Regions from separate parts of the Homo sapiens genome. Here region 1 is linked to region 2. Evidence: fine-mapped expression QTL. A gene starts in region 2. The other region holds a variant in brackets. All regions are shown on one strand. Distances are from middle to middle.

What was found.
Region 1: its variant is fine-mapped to the expression of LINC03100 in lung (GTEx, PIP above 0.99). The same link has a PIP of 0.9 or more in vagina and whole blood.

What each region holds. Positions count from the first base shown.
Region 1 is chr2:241,905,326-241,909,713 of GRCh38, forward strand. The region is part of intron 2 of LINC01237 (long intergenic non-protein coding RNA 1237); the gene reads left to right. Among named protein-coding and RNA genes, the nearest start is that of FAM240C, 7.1 kb to the left of the region's middle. The variant C/T (reference allele first, on the strand shown) is at 2,536.
Region 2 is chr2:242,086,003-242,090,390 of GRCh38, forward strand. LINC03100 (long intergenic non-protein coding RNA 3100) reads right to left here and starts at 2,563. Exons shown (of 1, transcript NR_186294.1): 1 at 1,349-2,563. LINC01881 (long intergenic non-protein coding RNA 1881) reads left to right here and starts at 2,631. Exons shown (of 7, transcript NR_130702.1): 1 at 2,631-2,799.

The DNA.
Region 1 (4,388 bases), 180 kb before region 2:
GTGCAGGGCTGTGGGTGTGCGCACACCTGCGTGTTTAATCATAATACAAAGTGGGCCGGGAACCTCACCCTGAAGTGTGAAGGGCAGTGCGTCATTTAGAATCCTTCTCTTTTTCTCCTTCTTGAGCAGCTGAACGTTGAGAGGGGCCCCGTCTGGTGTGGCCGTGTCTGGTCCCCCATGCAGGCCCTGCACCGTGGACTCCCAACCTGCGGGGATCCGTCCCCAAAGACGCCACTAGTTCTGCCAGCCCAGGGTTTCCTGAGTGTTTCCCGAGAGGCCCTGGTTGCACGGAGTAAGTTCTAGTTTAGTCCTGGTTCGTTCTCCCCAAACGTCTCTCAGGAGCTGTGTTTCTTCTTCATGACCTTCCCCTTAGACCTGTGTCAGATCAGGGTTAGAGGTTGGTCTCCTGGCCTGTGTGGCCACCCTGGCGCCCTCGACGCTCTGCCATGGGCTCCCTTTCTTTCATCGGAGGCAGCATCTGGCCATAGTGAAACTGAGTGTGGGGAGGGGGACGCAGAGCTCCCAGGTCCCAGCCCACAGGTGCCTCGGTGGTGAAATCCCCTGACACACTGAGTGGGGCTTCCAGGACGGGGGACGGAAGGAAAAGGATTAAGGGGTTAGGTAAGTGCAAATATGGCTTTGAAGGTTTAAAATCCTTCACTCATGTTGTGAGGGAAGAACAGGTACTAGACTAGAAGCCATGTCTGGTTGCCCTTGAGGGACCCCTCAGCCAATGTGAAGACGTGTCCAGGCAGCCCTGGGAGACATCCCTGTGGGGGGGCCAGTGCAGGAAACGGACCGCCGGGGGAAGCTCCTGTCATCCCAGGGTGGGCCAGGCTGGGACTACAGTCATGTGCACAGCATGGCTGAGATAATGAGCAAGACTCCAAGGTCCACCCAGGGGCCCGATGGCCTTTAGGGAGACCTAGCACTGTTGCAGGATCAGGAGGACCGGAGAGAGACCTTGGAGTGTACACAGGAGGATATCTTTATCATTGAGTGCACTCAGACCCAGCAGACTCAATGTCCAAAGACTGGGCCCAGAACAAAGACAGCGCCTGACTTTTACACACACTTCACAAAAGGGGGTGGGCTAGCTTGAAGCAAGCTTACAGTGGCGTGAAAGCAGGGATACAGAGGCAGGACAAACTCAGGATTGCACATGACTGTTGCCAAGCAACCCACATGTCCGTTATCTAGGTTAACCTGGGCACGGGCTTATCCCATAACCTTCACTATGTTGCCCAGGTGGCCGTAACTCAGGCCTGCTCAGAGGCTCATGACCTTCACTTTACTGCTTAGATAAAACAATGCTTGAAGTCAATAGTTACAGAGAACAGGAATTTATAAACTCATTCCATAAAACAAAGGAAAATTTGTTTTTCTTCTCCCTATATTGAGGGAGTGCTGGGAGAGTCTCCAGAGCACATTAGATAATATTATTATTAAGACTTTTCCTGGGTTTGGGCTGTGCTTGTTGCTGCCTCTAGGACAAGTTAGCCTAATACGGGAAAGCTTATTTCTCTTTCTTTTTAATTTTATTTTTCTTTAATTTCCCACCTCAACACGACCTGAACGTGGCTTAGTCTGCTGCTGGTGTTTGTGGAGGGCTGAATAGTGTCCTTAGGAAATATGTTCAAGCCCTAACCTGTGAACACAGACATTTTTGGAAATGGGTTATTGCAGATGTTATGCATTAGGATGACCTCATGATGGATTAGGGTGGGCCCTAAATCCAATGACCAGCATGCTTTTAAGAAGGGGAAATGTGTGCACAGACACACAGGGAAGGTACGGTGAAGCCGGAGGGAGAGAAGAAGGGACGCGTCTACACTCCAAGTGCAGAGAGAAAAGGTTCAGGGTTGAGGCTCCTGAAACAAGACGGATTCACCAGAGAAAAGCGAACAAATGTATTTTAGTTTTATGTGACTTGGAGCCTTCGTAAGGAAATGAAGACCCAGAGCCAGGTGGACCTGTGTGTTTGTGCTTTGGCTTGATGAAGAGGGGATGGCCGTGGGGAAACGTGGATGAGGACGGGAGGCTGTGATGTGATGGGTGAACTGGGCACCTCAGCACGGCCTGTGTGCCCGGGGGAGAGGGGATAGGTGAGCAGGGAAATGACTGTGTTGACTATACACAGCCACCACCTAAACCTCAGTGTTTGCTTTGTAATTGAGCTCACGCAAGCAAAGCTATCTCCAGCGGGGACTCTCTTCTAAAGAGCACGCACACTTTAATTTTTACCTGTCCTCGAACCAACCCTTTGTTCATTATAACAGTGAAAAAGATACCCCTGGGTGGAGATGTAAGATGCTAATGAGACACACCACCTACAAACAAGCATGTGTGCCGACGACCACCAGACTGTGCTTCCTGATAACACCTCTCCCACTTTCTTTTTTTTTTAAGGTGGGGTCTAGATCTATCCCCAGTCTGGAGTGCAGTGGTGAGATCTCAGCTCACCACAGCCTCTGCCTCCCAGGTTCAAGCGATTCTCCTGCCTCAGCCTCCTGAGTAGCTGGGATTATAGGCATG[C/T]GCCACCATGCCCAGCTAATTTTGTATTTTTTTTTAGTAGAGACGAGGTTTCTCCATGTTGGTCAGGCTGGTCTTGAACTCCCGACCTCAGATGATCCACTCGCCTTGGCCTCCCAAAGTGCTGAGATTACAGGCATGAGCCCCCATGCCCGGCTACCTCTCCCATCTTCTTATGGATCATCGGGTGAGACTCCCATAAAGGCAGCCTCCCTATGGCCGGTCTCTGCTGTCTCACCCTCATGACCCACCCTGAGTCCTTTCTCCCTTAGGGTGGCCTGTCTATTCTGCACCTCACTTTCAAAATACTCTTTTTTTTTTTTTTAAAGACAGAGTTTTGCTCTTGTTGCCCAGGCTGGAGTGCAGTGGTATGATCTTGGCTCCCTGCAACCTCTGCCTCCCGGATTTGAGTGATTCTCCCGCCTCAGCCTCCCAAGTAGCTGGGATTACAGGCGCTTGCTACCATGCTTGGCTAATTTTTCTATTTTTATTAGAGATGGGGTTTCACCATATTGGCCAGGCTGGTCTCAAACTCCTGACCTCAAGTAATCCGCCCACCTCGGCCTCCTAAAATGCTAGGATTACAGGCGTGAGCCCCTGCAAAATACTTTTCTTCTTTTGCAATAAGTTACTCTGTGCTGCACTTCTTTTGCAGTGTGTCTCTTGTTTAAATTCTTTTGAACTGAGAAGACGAGAACTGTCATCACGTCAGCTGTCAACACCAGTTCTCTGTGTCCTGTATCTTCAGAGAGAAGGGCGTGTCTTTTCCCCGGGTTTCGGGAGGGCGTCTCACATCAGGGTCTTGGGGACCTGCTGTAGGGGAGAAGGCTGAGGGGAGGTGAGAGAGACCTTCCTGCTTCTGCTGTTTTCACAGTGCCAAGGTGCCATACTTTGGGGTAGCGTGTCCCGAACCCCATCAAAAGCAACACAGAGGGTTGCTGGGGCATGGCCGGGAGCAGATTCCCTTTCACATCTCCGCAGGAACTGACCCTGCCGATGCCTGACCTCAGACTTCCGGTCCCCAGGCTGTCAGACAGATTTCTGTTTTGCTTAGTCGGGCAGACGCTAGGCTCTGTCCCCTACGGTGGCACCATTGGTGCCGCTCATCGGTTCTTTTCAGGCGGCACAAAGTCCTGCACACGTGTGGGCCAGGTCTCCAGGAGATCTAGGCAGAGTGAAATGCAGATTTTGGGGTCCCCTCTGGCTCTGTCCTTTCCAGGAACTCCTCTTTCCTCCCTGGCTGCCACAGTCACCCCGTTGCTCTCTGGGTCCTCATGCCGGAGGGACGGTGGTTTCCTACCCGAGGCTTTGCTCCCCTGCGTGGGCCAGCTGCTCTCGAGTGGAATGCCTTACAAAAGGAAATCTGCCTGGCGCCACGGCTTTCCTCCGAGTACGGACGCCTGTTCAGTCTCTTTCTGCTTCCGGCTGTGCCCGGTACCTTCTGGTGGTTGGTGCCTGTATCTGTCCAGGGGATGTAGGTGGTGTGTTGGACTGACATGAGCTGCTTTGCCATGACTGGAAATGGAGCCTCAGTGTTACTGGAAAAAGGGTCTCAATCAAGACCCCAAGAGAGGGCTTTGGATCTCTCGTGGGAAGAAATTCCAGGCGAGTTGCAGAGTGCAGTGAGAGAAGGAAGTTTATTGAAAACTACTTCATTGCAGATAGGGCACCCTCAGAAAGCAAGAGAAGCAACGCCCCAGCTTTAGGTTTTTCTTATATAGGGGTCTCGTCTGTGGAAAGACCAAGCCAAGCTGTGCCTACATGTAGGTGAGCAGAGAGCATGATATTTTCTTATTCTATGTAAGGAAAACTGTCCTTGACATTTTCGTGTGTGAGTCCATCAAAGCATAACTGGA
Region 2 (4,388 bases):
GCAACTGCACCACAATCTCCAGCTGCACCATGTGTTTTGAAAAGCGTTTCTCCCCGCCCCTCTGGGGTTTTTCTCCTCCTCCAGTGGCGAAATTTCAGAGGGCACTGAGTGGGTTACTCTTCACAAGCACAGAGCTAAGCCCAGTCCTGGTAGAAAGCACACACAAAGAAGACCCAAGACCATGAATATGCTGACCTAAGTTGGACAGAACTGCTTCATGGCTTCCTGCTGTTACTCCATGGGTTTCTGATCCTGTTCTGTAGGTTTCTGCTGTTACTCTGAGTTCCTGCTATTACTCTGTGGGTTCCTGCTGTTACTCTGTAGGCTCTGCTATTACACTATGGGTTCTGATGTTACTCTGTGAATTCCTGCTGTTACTCTGTGGGCTCTGATGTTACACTGTGGGTCCTGTTTTTACTCTGTGGGTTCTGATATTACTCTGTGGACTCTGATGTTACTCTGTGGGTTCCTGCTATTTCTCTGTGTGTCCTGCTGTTACTCTCTGGGCTCTTGTGTTACTCTGTGGGTTCCGACATTACTCTGTGGGCTCTGCTGTTACTCTGTGGGTTCTGACGTTACTTTGTGGGCTCTGCTGTTACTCTGTGGGCTCTGATGTTACACTGTGGGTTCTGCTGTTACTCTGTGAATTCCTGCTGTTACTCTGTGGATCTCTCTGTGGTTACTCTCTGAATTCCTGCTCTTATTCTGTGGACTTCTTTTGTTGCTTTGTGAGTTTCTGCAGTTAGTTTACCTCTTTACCATCCAGCCAGGAATTCTTTCACTAGGAATTGTGTGGATGCTGGCCAATTGGGCTAAATTTAATATTACTATGTCCCCTATTGTGGTGGTGGGGTCTTGGCTTGGCAATTTCTACTAGTATTCCATATGCAGTTAATCTTGACACATCAGTGAAAGAAAAATAAAATCTCAGGCCTCCAAACTTACTATGCCAAAGGGAAAAGTTAATATTGGCAACACACACACACACACGCACACACACACACACACACACATACATGCCTTCTTTTTGTTCCCAAAAGCTTACTTTATCTTATGTGAAATGTAGATCTACTGAGTATGAGACAGATGTATAACCCTCCCCCATACCTTTCTTTTCACATGTGAAATGTAGATTTGCTGTACTCTAATCAGAGCCTCACAAAAATGTGACCACTTGCCTCATAGCCTACTCTCCCCTCTTTCCCCTCCTACCGGCGCTTTTCCCTTAAATATTTGGAAAAAAGTACAGGCCAAAAATCCTACTGTAACCTGTGTTTCTTTTTCCCCAGGCAAATCCACAATTTTGGCAAAATAAACCTCTATATCAGTTGTGATCTGCCTCAGACACTTTTTGGTTTACACAACAATCCAATCATAGCGATTTATTTGGAAATATACCTTCACAAGTTAAATCAAACCACAGCACTACTGGGCATTATTTGTAATGGCAAACTATTGCAAACAATCTAAAGCCCATCATAGACATCATAGAAACTATTCTAATAAATTGATACATTTATATAATGGAATAATCCGCAACCTTGAAGGGAATGAAGGAAGGAATAAAGAGAGAGGGTAAGGAAGAAAAGAAAGGAGAGAGGGAAGGAGGGACAGACAGGTGTTTAAATTGGGGATGTGCAAGCAATATTGCCTGCTTCATTGCCTTCACATTATCTAAAAGCATGTGGTCAAGAAACACTATTACAATAAGCACATCAGAAATAACTTCTAAAATTACTTTTCCAAAATATGAATCCATACTATACACTTCCTGTAATGTGCACCAAATGTAGATGCACACATTTTAACAAGGAAAAGACTAATACTCATATTTGCTTGCTACACACCAGACACTGTTTTAAATGTTTTGCACACGTTAACTCATCTGTTCTTACAGAAATCCTGTAGCGTGCACCGCCACCTCCATGTTTCTAGGAGGAAACTGAGGCACGGGGGCTGCGGCTCCTGGACGCACCTGGCCTTCTCGGCCTGCCTCTCTCCCTCCAGCCGCCCCACATTCTTTTTTCCTAATTGGAAAAAACTATTCACGCTGCTCCTCCAGGGCATTTCAACCTTCTAGAAAGACTCGACAAGATTCGAAACTGTTTATAAAGAGAACGTGCTTGTGCCTGAATGCTGAGTGTGAGCGCGCAGTGATGCCCTAGAGTGCAGTCATCCCGGGCTTGGCGCCCAGCGGGTGGAAATACGGCCGCAGGGTGGAAATGCGGCGGCGGGGCTGCCCAGGCTCCTGTGGGACCCGCGCGGCGCGGGCACGCACATTCTCAGGGACGCGCGTCCTCAGGCCACGAGAACACCTGAAGGCCCCGGCCAGCGTCCTCCAGTGAAGACCCGGACCGGCGTCGTCACCCGCCGCGCAGGCCTAAATCTCAGGTCTTCACCGTCATCTCCCAGCGATCGCAGGGATCTCAGGCACTGACCGCGCCCGTCCCTGCGCCCCCCCGCCCCCGCCCCCCCGCGCCCCCGCGCCCCCGCGCCCCCGCGCCCCCACACCTCCACGCCCGGCACTCTGGGCGCGCGCGGACGGCGGGGCAGTGCCTACTACGCAGGCGCACGCTGCGGGCGTCAGGACCCGGCAGCAACACTGCCACGCGAATCCGCGCCGGCCAATCAGCATGGCCAGGGGCGGGGCTTCCCTGAGGCGCGCCGAGAGGCGGTGGCCCACTTCCGGCAATAATCGCCTGGTCGCCGTCAGGTGCCGGCCCAGGTGGCAGGCGCGCCCGTTGGGCACTGGGGGACGCGGGCGCGTCAGGTGAAGACTGGGGGCTGCAGGCGCGCTAGGTAGGTACGGGGTGCCGCGGGCGCGTCAGGTGAAGACTGGGCGCCGCAGGCGCCTTAGGTGAAGATTGGGGATCGCGGGCGCGTCAGGTGGGGACGATGGGCCACGGGCGAGTCAGGTGAAGACCGGGGGCGGCGGGCGCGTCAGGGGAAGACATGGGGTCGCGGGCGCGTCAGGTGGGGACCGGGGGTCTCGGGCGCGTCAGGTGGGGACGGGGTTGTCGCGGGCGCGTCAGGTGGGGACGGGGTTGTCGCGGGCGCGTCAGATGGGGACGGGATTGCCGCGTGCGCGTCTGCTGAGGTCTGGGTCCGCGGGCGCGTCAGGAAGGGACGATGGGCCGCGGGCGCGTCAGGTGGGGTCTGGGGGCGGCCGGCGGGTGTGGAGGGTTCATTCAGGGAGCTGCGGGCGAGTCAGGTGGGCACGGGGACCGCCCACAGGTGCATCGCGTGTCCTCAGCCGCTTCCCCTGCCCACCTTCTGCGACCCCTTCCCGCCCCCACCCTCCTGGGCCGTCTTGCAGGCCCGAGCTTGTGTCCGCCTCGCTGGGCAAGGTGTTTCGGGGACGACTCCTGCCGGCGTTTGCCCTCCGGGCTCGGCCCTTGCCTCTTCGCCGGTGGGCACCTGCTAGGTGTGACCCCTCATTCCTCCAGGCCACTCTGCCCCGTCTGCTGCTTACCTTTTTTTCCCTACTCCTGGTCTGTGGCTCTGGCTCTGTCTCTGTCTCCTCCCTTAATTTCTTTCCATGCTTATTTTTCTTGCAGCAGACACTAATTTTGCATCCTTCCCCTCACAGTAAGCTCAATTTGACCTTTTTCTCAATTAGATTCCACCTCTGTCCTTGGGTCTATTCAAACTCATTTTGAAGACTAAAGAATCTAGAGAACCATTTCTTCCCTTATGAAGCTGTCTCTTGCTGCCTCCAAATCCTTACCATCCGGCCCTAATCAAAAAAGACGTTTACTCTTTCATATTCTGTTTTCTCCTCGTCTTTACATGTTTACCTTTCCCATGAGGAATCTGTGATTATCTGTAAGTCCTTACAGTAAATCTTATTTCTGACTCTCAGCCCTCAGTGTGCCATTTTTTTAAATGTCCTTTCTGGATCAAATTTGTCCACACTTTTAAGCAAAACAAATAGGGAAACACATGTGGTCTTTTAAAATGGATTAGAGTTTTCTTTCCTGTCTTGTTTTCCTTGTTTTAGTGCCTTTATATTTAGATTCATCATTACTTGAAATCATATTAGTGATCTGTAATAGACGGTAAAAAAAAAAGTTAAAAGGCTTATAATTTAATGGCATCTGTTTTAATAGGGTTTTCAGGAACTGCTATTATAAACATAGTGGGTAGGAGCATGGATCCCGGAGTGAGACTCCATCATTTTGAATCCCAGCTCCACTGAACTCTTTGCCTCAGTGTCTTCATCTATAAAATAGATAATGAAACTTGTAAAACAAGAATAATGTTTTCTATCTTGGAGGACAGCATGAGGATTAAATGAGACAACATATGTAGATTGTTTAGAGTAATGCATAGCCTATAGTAAGCTCTAATAAATGTTTGCCATTATTATTGTAAAGAAAAAATATGCT